Regions from separate parts of the Homo sapiens genome. Here region 2 is linked to region 1. Evidence: fine-mapped QTL for protein levels in blood plasma. Region 1 holds a variant in brackets. A gene starts in the other region. All regions are shown on their reverse strands. Region 1 overlaps LINC02318 (long intergenic non-protein coding RNA 2318). Region 2 holds the start of CD5L (CD5 molecule like).

What was found. PIP is the chance, under the fine-mapping model, that this variant and not a neighbour inherited with it causes the effect. Protein levels are from antibody-based Olink assays in UK Biobank. Linkage for the fine-mapping came from a reference panel and not from the study's own genotypes, which makes the PIPs less certain.
Region 2: CD5L starts here. The variant in region 1 is fine-mapped to the plasma level of the CD5L protein (UK Biobank, PIP above 0.99).

What each region holds. Positions count from the first base shown.
Region 1 is chr14:95,574,144-95,579,528 of GRCh38, reverse strand. All of the region lies in intron 1 of LINC02318 (long intergenic non-protein coding RNA 2318), which reads right to left. Among named protein-coding and RNA genes, the nearest start is that of LINC02318, 3.3 kb to the right of the region's middle. RefSeq lists enhancers at 1,866-2,787, 2,788-3,710. The variant C/T (reference allele first, on the strand shown) is at 2,320.
Region 2 is chr1:157,839,569-157,844,953 of GRCh38, reverse strand. CD5L (CD5 molecule like) reads left to right here and starts at 3,146. Exons shown (of 6, transcript NM_005894.3): 1 at 3,146-3,280. The coding sequence starts at 3,253.

The sequences.
Region 1 (5,385 bases):
CCACTGTGCCTGGCCAGAAAATGTCCTTTTTTTTGAAATCATGCTGAAGTATTTAGGAATAAAGGGACGTCATGTCTGCCGCTTACCTGAACTGATTCAGAAAATAATAACGTACATGGACACATACATGCATACATACACACACACAGATAATGATAAGGTGATGTAATCAGATAAAAAATGTGGGAATCTGCTGAAGGGTATAAAGGAAATTTTTGTACTATTCTGGCAATTTTTCTCTAAATTTGAAATTGTTCCAAAATATAAAGTTTTTTTTTTTTTAATATTGCATTGCCAACACCCTTGATCACACAGAGGATATCTGTAACTCTGAGTTGGAAAGTTATTTAAAAGAAGTAGGATTTCTCGGCTGGGCGCGGTGGCTCAAGCCTGTAATCCCAGCACTTCGGAAGGCCGAGGCGGGCGGATCACTGGGTCAGGAGATCAAGACCATCCTGGCTAACACAGTGAAACCCCGTCTCTACTAAAAATACAAAAAATTAGCTGGGCATGGTGGCGGGCGCCTGTAGTCCCAGCTACTCGGGAGGCTGAGGCAGGAGAATAGTGTGAACCCGGGAGGCGGAGCTTGCAGTGAGCCGAGATCGCGCCACTGCAATCCAGCCTGGGCGACAGAGCAAGACTCCTTCTCAAAAAAAAAAAAAAAAAAAAAAAAAGAAGTAGGGTTTCTCTATTGAGATAATCATATGATTAAAAACAATATTTAAAAAAAGAAGAAGGGTTTGAAGGTGAAGATATTTTTAAAATAATTAACCAATTTATTTCACTCATATTTTCTTTTCTATATATGCAAAAGCACAATAAATAAGCAAAGCCTATGTCTAACTGAGTTTAAAAGAGCTCTTTATAATGAGTTTACAACAAAAATTCTAAATGCGAAGGAAATACTGTATTATAGTTTAATAGTTAGCTGTTTTTCTTTCTTCGTGGTACATAAAATAGTGATACATCCTTGAATTATAAAAACAAAAAAAAGTACATAAATATTTTTAACTCTGACTTTGCCACTGATTAAATGTGTGACCTTGGGCAAGTCCTGTGCACATGTTTTCCCCATTAGTAAGACTGGATGACAATATTTACTGTGCAGAGCTGTTAGTGTTATCAAACCCCAAATTTTGGGTTCATGTACCTGATATACAGCAAACCTAACACCGACACATCAGCACTTAGAAGCAGAGGAAGGTTTATTTGACTCGGCTAAAGCAAGAAGGCAGGAGAAGCAGCCTCTCAAATCCAATCTGCCTTTTAACATAACTGGGGGCTTTTATGAGCAAAGCAGGTATGCAGGAGATGGATTCCCCCAATACTCAAAACTGTTTGAGTTCCTCGGCCCAAACAAACTCCTAGATGCTATCAAGGAGGTCTGCATGACCTAAGGATCATTGTTCTTTGAAAGAAAAACAGTTCATCAATCTTGCAGGCAGCCCTGGGGGTTAGGGTAGGAAGTTAATCAATTACTAGTGACTTCCCTCGTGCAAGCAAGCATGCACGGAGGAAGAAAAGGACAAGGAAATAAGTAAAGTGAACATCTTATGATCTTTATAATAAAGGCTTAATTACATTGGGAGGATTAAAACATCATTGTAACAATAATACCAGTAACAATGACATTTAAGCCAGTGTGTCTACTTGTCAGGCACTGCACTATCAAATACCAGCAGCAAGTCTGGCACAAAATAGATGCTCAATAAATGGTAGCTATTGAATCAGGGCCACACATTTAATTGATATTATGATCAAGATGTTCAAGGGAAAAAATACTATTACTTATTTAATGTGGAACAAGTCTAGTCTTTCTCTTGAGCTCCCACCTGCTGGTTAGGAGGCAACAATGTTATTTGGATCCTGTTTAGAGTATTCTCAGAGCTGAGCCCTCAAATTGTATCAGTCTTACTTATGCACCTGTCCTGTTGGCCGTCCTTGTGCTGCCCCTGACACCTGCCTGCTCCCTAAGGCGATGTGGGGAGAGGAGCATATACATTCCAACGTGCTGTAAGGATAGAGATCCTGGCCGGTCCCTGTGAGGCAGGAGAATAGGGCCTGGAGGCCATGAACGTAAGGCTGATCCATGCTGACTTCCTAGAACAAAATCAAATGGAATATAAATGGCTTTGTAACCTCACTTCATCCTCTCCATTTACACCGTTTACACTTTGTAACTTCACATTCATCCTCTCCATTTACATAAACCGCACACACAGTGACATCCTCTCCATTTACATAGACCACACACGCCAAGTGACATCCGCTCCATTTACACTTTGTAACTTCATATTCGTCCTCTGCATTTACATAGAC[C/T]GCACACACCAAATAACATCCTCTCCATTTACATATTCTGGGCACATTCTGAGTAAATGACTTTGTAACTTATCTTCATTGTCTTCATATACATAGAACATATACCAAGTAACCAGTGGAAAACGTCTAGAGAGTATTGAAACCCCAGAAAATTCTGTAACCAGGGCTCATGAGCCCCTATGCTCCGGCCTGCTCCCACACTGTGGAGTGTACTATCATTTTCAATAAATCTGTGCTTTTGCTTTCCTCACTTTGTGCGTTTTGTCCAATTATTTGTTCAAGACGCCAAGAACCTGGACACCTTCCACCAGTAACACCTGGATGTGCCCCTGGCATGCATGGGTCCCCACAGTCACCTCTGCCCCTGGAGCCCCTGGGGGCCAGGGTAACTCTCAGTCTGATCTTGGGGCTTGTTAGAGGTGCAGGATCCCTCTTGGATTGCCATTGCTGTCACCTCCAGCCAGCCCGTTGGCCTGAGTGCCACCTTCCCTTGCCCAGGCCAGGCCCTTGGGCAGTTCATTCAGCCTCTGTACCACTCAGGAGAAAGCGAAAACTTAAGGTTCCTCAGCTGACCCTCCTGGCACCTTTCTGAAGGTGGGCTCCAGGGCCAGAGGCAACAGCCTCCTCCTTGCCATGAATATCCTCATGGATCCAACACCCTATCTTCCAGACTTGGGCCCAGGAAGAAAAATCAGAAAACAAGCTTCTGCCTCATTGGCCTTCCAACCTCTAGTACCTCCTCCTTTCTCTCCCATGACTCTCTAGGTTCCCATGGGGCTGGCTGCTCTCCCAGAGCCTCCCTGACTCCACTCTCAATGGTGGCCTGGTCTTCCCCAAGCAGACCATGGGGATCCCTAAGAGCCTCTAGGCTTTGTCCTTGATATGCTAATGGAGGAGATAAAGGAATCCCAGCACTTCTTCTCTTCTCAAAGCTTTCAAAACCAGGTCTCACACAGCCTCTCCTGCCTTGGGACAATAAGCCTTCTGGCTCCCCTGGAGGGAGCAGCTGCAAGAAAACCAAATTCAAAGCAAGAAGTGAAAATGCAGTGGTTTAAATTTACAGAAAGATTCTCGTTTGTACATTATTATGATAATTATGGCCCTGGGAATCCGGGTGAGGTCTCCAGAGCTTCAGTACACACTTCAGGCAGAGCATTTGCAAATTCATGGTCTTAAATCCTTAGGACAGAAAGATGTGAAGGAAAGCCAGGGAAGCAGAAGTCCTTAGGAGACCTGGGTCCTGAACTCTCCAGAGCTCATGGATCTTCTTGGATAATGAAATTCAGGGGTTGGAAGAGGCTATTTCTAAGGGAGGGCTTTCAACTCGGAGAGTCTCTGGCCAAAGGTTCTAATTCCAGTACTTCCAATTTTTGATTAACACTGCCAAATACAATCACAATTTTAAAATTCAGGGTACTTAAGGAGTTTAGGATATTAGGTTCTGCCAGAATAGCCTCTGCAGGGATGTGGAATGGCTGCATCCATCTGCCCAGGAGAAAGAGGGATGGGTACTGGGGAGGGTTCATTAGCAGGAAACTTTCCAGGGCAGATGAACACGAGGACAGAGCCCAGCTGAAGGGAACCAACAGGGAGTAGGAAAATCCAGAGCAAGATGGCAGATGTGAGGAACTGAGTGGGGTCAGTCTGGAGAATCTCACCAGCAAGTACAGAACCAGTTTTTGTCCCTTCCCATGCTCAGCAAGCCAGTAGCATGTTGATCTGCTAAAATAGCTGCCTACAGGATTTTCTGCCTCAATTCCTGACCCCTCCAATCACTTCCCCACCCTACAGCCAGAGAACCCACCACCTTTTGGGATCTTCCCATTGATCAGGATAAAGATCATGGCTGACAAGGCCCTGCATGGTCAAGGCCCAGCGGTTCTCAACCCTGACTGCATATAGGAATCATATTGGCCCAATCCCAAGGGATTCTGATTCAGTTAATCTGGGATGAGGTCTGAGCATCAGTATATATATAATATACTAATATATATTTATATATACTGGTGTATATATACATGTATACTGATATATTTTATCAGTATATATTTTTATTGATTTTTCTATATTATATATAATATATATCTATAAAAATATAAAATATATCTATATATTTAAATATTTGTTTCTATATACTGATATATTAAATATATATTTATACTGATATATACTTATATCAGTATAAACATATTAAATATATATTATATATAAATATATACAAACTATATGTTTATATATATTTAATCTCCAGGTGATTCTAACTGGCACTAAGGATTGCCAGCCCCCTGCTTTGGCCCTGCAAACTTCAACCTTATCTCATGACAGTCCCCCTCTCGGTTTCTTTGTGGCACAGCAACATTGCCCACTTTGCCCCAGTCCTTTTTTTTTTTTTTGAGACGGAGTCTCGCTCTGTCGCCCAGGCTGGAGTGCAGTGGTGCAATCTCGGCTCACTGCAAGCTCCGCCTCCCAGGTTCACGCCATTCTCCTGCCTCAGCATCCTGAGTAGCTGGGACTACAGGGGCCCGCCACCACGCCCGGCTAATTTTGTTTTTGTATTTTTAGTAGAGACGGGGTTTCACCGTGTTAGCCAGGATGGACTCCATCTCCTGACCTCTTCATCCGTCCACCTCGGCCTCCCAAAGTGCTGGGATTACAGGAGTGAGCCACCGTGCCCGGCCTGCCCCAGTACTTGTAATATGTCAATCTGCCTTTCCCTCGGGCCATTACACTTCTTTATCTCCTATGCCCGGAAAGCCTAGTCATTTCTGAGACCTTGACTCAAACACCCCTTCTGGAGGGAAACCTTCCTTGGCCTGCTGGACTAGACTATGTTATCCTCTTACACGCTGTATCCTCCAGGGTCAAATTAGGAAAACAGAGGCCACTTTAGGTGTTTCAAGTAGAAAGAATTTAAATCCTAGAAGTCGGTTACACGGGTGAGGAAAATGATGAGAAGCCCAATGGGACGGTGTAGCAATGACAGTGAGCTGCTGCCACCCCTGAGGCTGGAAGGGTAACAGACATTTGCCAGGAGCTAGAAGCTGGGGCAGCCTGGTAGGAGCTAGA
Region 2 (5,385 bases), not on the chromosome of region 1:
TCCCAGCCACCAGAAAACACAATGTGGACAAGGACTAGAGCCAAGAGATGGCATTTATGGTGAGTCTAAAGCCTCGGTGATGTTCTATCTCACAATACAATCATTCATGCATTCATTTGTTGAGTCAGCAATCATTTATTACATTCTAAGCACTTGATGTATAAAGGGGAGCAATTTGGATGGTTTTCTACTCTCACAGAGCCATAATTGACATACTCAACTATTTACCCAAGGGGTTTCACCTTGATGCCAAACCAGCAGGACATGAAGCTTGCCCTTCCTGAGAGGGCCCCTCAGAGTGTCTTCTAGCTTTTGTTGTGTGTCATGTATTGACGTCCTCCAGACAGGTATCTACTTCCGCACAGCTTTGGGCTTCCCCAACCTGTGCCTCCCATTCCACCTCCCTCTTCTTGCCGGTCCTCTTCTTGATAACCTCTTCTCAATTCCCTAAATCCCTCAGCTTCTGAAACTTCTTCCTTCACTCTCTTCTCATACCCTGGTTTGTGCCTGGTCATTGCCCAGAACAGCTTCTCTGAAACCTCAAGCACTTCTCTCCAAATCTCTGAACAACTTCCTATACCTTGAACTTTCTAACACTCTCCTTTTCCCCAGCACTTCCTCACTGAGGTTCCCTTTCCCAGAACTTATTTCTGTTTTCACTTTACATCAGCCCATGTCCTGATCTTCTCTAAGCCTCATACACCAGTTGGGCGGGCCCCTCAGCTTGATCTCTGGCTTTATGGGCCTCTCACACCAGCCTTCTGTCTGCAGCCTGAGAAGATTCCACAGCTGGGCACATGGATGCTGCTTACAAATGCAAGTTTTTCTACCCAGTGCTGAAAACAGATAGTTTACTTATCTTTTTCAGACTCGCTTTCCTTTTAGTGATTATTTCAGACCTTTACCACTTTTTAGAAGCTGCCAGCCAATACAGCCTACTTGCTCACATTAAGTAACTTTTATCCTCCAAACACAGTAAGTTTTAGGTACGTTCTTCTACCTCCTATTGAAGTCCTCCTCTGCTCTCTCTGGTGCAGTGGTCTCTTAATGGGTCTTAATGACCCATTACTGGTCTTCATCCCAATTCCTGCTCAGTGCTGCAGCCAAAATACACACCTTAAATGTGTAACACCCTTCGGTGGCTTCTTGTGTCCTGTGGGATAGTGTCCTTCCTGGCTAAAAAGCTTCCTTTTCCTTTCTTCATGTTCTCACGCCTGTTCATAAAATACTATATTGGGAGGAAAAGTTTTCTTTTTCTTTTCTCTTCTTCTTTCACTCAATTTTCCACATGGAATGGGGAAAATATATTTCTGAATCATGAAGCCTGTGTTTGCTAATGGGTTTGTCTGCCCTCAAGCCACACAAAGTCTTTTCTTTTCCAAGGGTAAACTCTGTTGTGCACATCTAGCTCCTGAAGAATGGAGGTAAATGCATAAAGCCTTAGATCCCAGTGGCAGTCTAATGTAGTTCATCAACAGTAAAGATGATATTTTGAACCTTTTCTGAATTCTGTACCTATTACTGTGTCACTTCAGAATCTAGAGAGGGAAGGATGTGAATAGTTAGCATTTACAAACTCATTCATGATATACCCTCCATTATCTGGCTCTTGTTGCTACTTGCATATCATCTAGTGTCTTTACCTTTCAACATCAAGAAGCCCTGGCCCCTGATCACTAAGCAGGCTGTAATCCAGTCATTCCAAACTACCTGTGGTTCCTTGAATAAGTAATGCTGTTTCACTTGTCTGCATATGCATAGCAAAATCTTTTCCTATTCTGATTCTCCACTTAACTCATCCTAAACCCCTGCTCAAGTATCATCATTGCTGTGAAGTCTTCTCTGATTAGCTCCAAACATAGTAACCATTTCCTCCAAGGTTTCATTTCTTTTTCTTATTTTAGAGATGTGATCTCACTCTGTCACTCAGGCTGAGGTTCAGTGGCCTGATCATAGTTCACTGCAGCCTCAAACTCCTGGGCTCAAGCTATCCTCCCAGTTCGGCCTCCCAAAGTGCTGGGATTACAGATATGAGCCACCTCGCCTGGCCTCCAAAGTTTGTTATACTTTTCTCTCTTAACAGTGGTTTCCACATGTTATTGCAATTACTAGACCATATATTTTTACAGTGCAAAACTATCCCTTGTTCCTTCATGTACTGCCTCCACCCATCACATTGCCTGGCATTCATGAGTGCTAAAAACTTTTCATTGAATACAATACTAAGTAAATGAAGAAATGTGGGATTAAAAATGAATGCCTACAATGAACCAAGCTTTCTGCTGAGTTACCTGAATATTACAAAGAAGCAAAAATTATTACTGTAGAGGAACAATTACCCTGCTTGGAATGCAGAGATTATGTCAGCATACAAAATTGATTGCTTGATCAATCTGGAGTAGAATAGCTCATGAAGCATAGCTATACTTAATAATATAGCAAAGCAGAGGGGCCTGAGAGGGTCTTACTGCTTAATCTCTGTCCATCATGTCTTAGACCTACAGACAACTTGAGTTCAATGATTATGATGCCCCTCACCTCAGGGATCTGTTTCCATCCAGCTTCCAAAGATGGGCATACACCAGCACAAGCATAGAAAAATAACAAATCTGTATATTGGACCCTCTGCTTAGCAGTGAGAAAGCAGGTTTGAAGACAATAAAGCCAGGCCTGTATGTGGAGATTGGCACCATGACCCTGGATTATGTTTTATGGGATATGCCTCCAAGGGCAACTCTGCATTTATCCCATGGCCTCTGGCTTCCAAATTTTCTAGGCACTTCCCTCTGGGGTAAAGGAATCAAAATTGGCTTATTTCCCTTGCAAACCATCCTTGGCGACTAAGTACTGCCTTGTCTTCTACTGAGAGATGGCCATATTTTTGGCACCTGCCTTTCCTTGTGGGAGGTGTTTCCTCTGTTTACATAGCAAAGGGGCTGTAGGAGAGACAGACGGAGCTGGACTTACAGCAGAACCAAGTCATGATAGCCTGTTTCTATTTTGTTTTCAGCATTTTTCCGCCAGTTCTGGCCACCTCCTTTCCTCTGGAACATGCTGATTTCAGCAAGTCCAGCTCTGTCAGCTCTGCCCCCCGAGTCTATTGGTTTCTGATCATCTGATAATGCTTTGCCTGCACTCAGGACCTGTCTTTGTCCCTCCTCTTAACATACTTGCAGCTAAAACTAAATATTGCTGCTTGGGGACCTCCTTCTAGCCTTAAATTTCAGCTCATCACCTTCACCTGCCTTGGTCATGGCTCTGCTATTCTCCTTGATCCTTGGTGAGTATCTCTGCACCTGTTGGTTTAGGCTTCAGAGTTTTCTGGCACTTTGATTAGGAGAACTTTCTCCCCGCCAACCTGGAACAGATTTAGATGTTTTTCAAGGATGAGCTTCTTCCTCCTTTTTACATTTGGTAACTATTCTAATCCTTAAAAAGCCGCTTAATCCATACACATTTGTAATTCACTTTAACAGATTTTTTTCTATTTTCTTATATTTGTAATGACAGAGTCATGATAGTTTATCCCATTTCTCTTTTTACATAAGTGTTCCTAAATGTACTATTAGTAAGAAGACAAATGAATGGGCACCGGGCAGCAGCAAGTAGAGCCAGGAAAGGAAGTAGAACTGCAAGACAATCACCTTTCATTGATCATATTGTCTGGTTTCCTCTGAAAAGTGTTTCATATAATGTTTTTCTAGTTTTCTTCAGTTTCTCATTGCTTAGAGTAATCTAGAGATTAACCTAGTTAATCTGGTGATTGTGGAGCCAAGGAGACCTGGATTTCAATCCTGCCGTTTTGATTTCTTAGCGGTGTGAATTCGTAGGTTACCATACCTCTCTGAAATTTTGCTCTCTCATCTATGAAGTGAGGATAATATTATGTTCCTCAGAGGTTTTTAGGAGTATTTTTTTTTATAAGATAACTAATATAAAGCATCTAACAATGCCTGGTAAATCCCTATGCTAATCAATCACATCCACTTTTATGTCTTGATGATCTAGTACATCACCAAAGCCCACACAATCCTCTCAACTGGACACTTTTGTGTTCAATGTAAGGTACTGACCACATCTTAAACATCCATGCATCCCCCACATCACTCAACGGCTAGTCCTGCCCCTCATGGATATACTACTGGGTCTTCCAGGCTCATGTGCACTTCCACCTGCTTCATGAAGCCTTTCTGGCCTGTGCCTTCTGCAGTTACCCACCCTACTGCAGAGCTTCCAAGTCACTTACTGGCTATATCACGTTTGCACCTGCATATCAGGCTTGCCATGCTCACTTTCCTTCACATGTACACATGTTGGGTTGGGGTTATGCAATGATTCCCATATGTATAATATAACCTTGAGTTTTGGATAGTTGCAGAAAAGGCCTCATTGAGCCTGAGAGTGGCCACATTCTGAAGATTAAGGGAATGAGGGTAATGAGAGGTTATTTGGAAACCAAGAAAAGAAAATATTCCAGGATAAACCACTGAACTACTTGAATCTGCCTGAAAAACTGTAGGCTGGAGGTCCAAAGATATTTGCACCTTCTGAAAAATCCTATAAGATGGGGGTGGTGGGTGTTTTGCAGTTGAAAATGCATAGGCCTCAGGGACTCCTGGAGGTTACAGGGCCCAGGACTCTCTACAGCATTAGGAGGGACCTTATGGAGAAAGGAGTCCAAATATACAGAGATCCTGCAGGAAGAAACCCCCATGTTTTAAAGACAGGCTGGTGCTGGAATCTGGAGGTTTGGAACTACATATAGAGCTACTTCCTGAGCTATTCATCTAAATCAGCTAAAACAGCCTGCAAGCTGATAATGAGGTTTGTATTTTTAAATGGTAGGAAAAAAGCAAAAGAGAAATACTATTTTATGACACATGAAAATGACAAAAAATTTAAATTTCAGTGTCTAATAAAGGTTTAATGGAACATAGCCGTCCTCACTTGCATACATATATGTGGCTGTTCTCAGGCTACAATGGCAGAGCTGAGTGGTTGCAACAGACACTGTATGGCCCACAAAACTGAAAATATTACTGTCTGGCCTCTTACAGTAAGAGTTTGCTTACCTGGTCTAAATGCTGTGCCGATGAACACAGGCATATCCTGCCCCTTTGCCCTAATTTCTGCTCTGCCCACCATGGCATCTTTACCTCCACCGGCCAGTGCATCTTCCCAGTGGCCTCCAGCACTCTTTCCTGTTGAGCCAAGAGGCTGTATCACCACACTTTTCTTCAGGCAGTAACAACCAATCAATCTAATTGACTAGAATAGAAAACCAATCTATCCACCATCACGTGTGAAGAAAGCAGGCTGAACCAGTTAGCTGTGGTGGAATTGGTCTCTGTGATTCCTAGCCAGTGTCCCTGTGTCCTTGGAGGA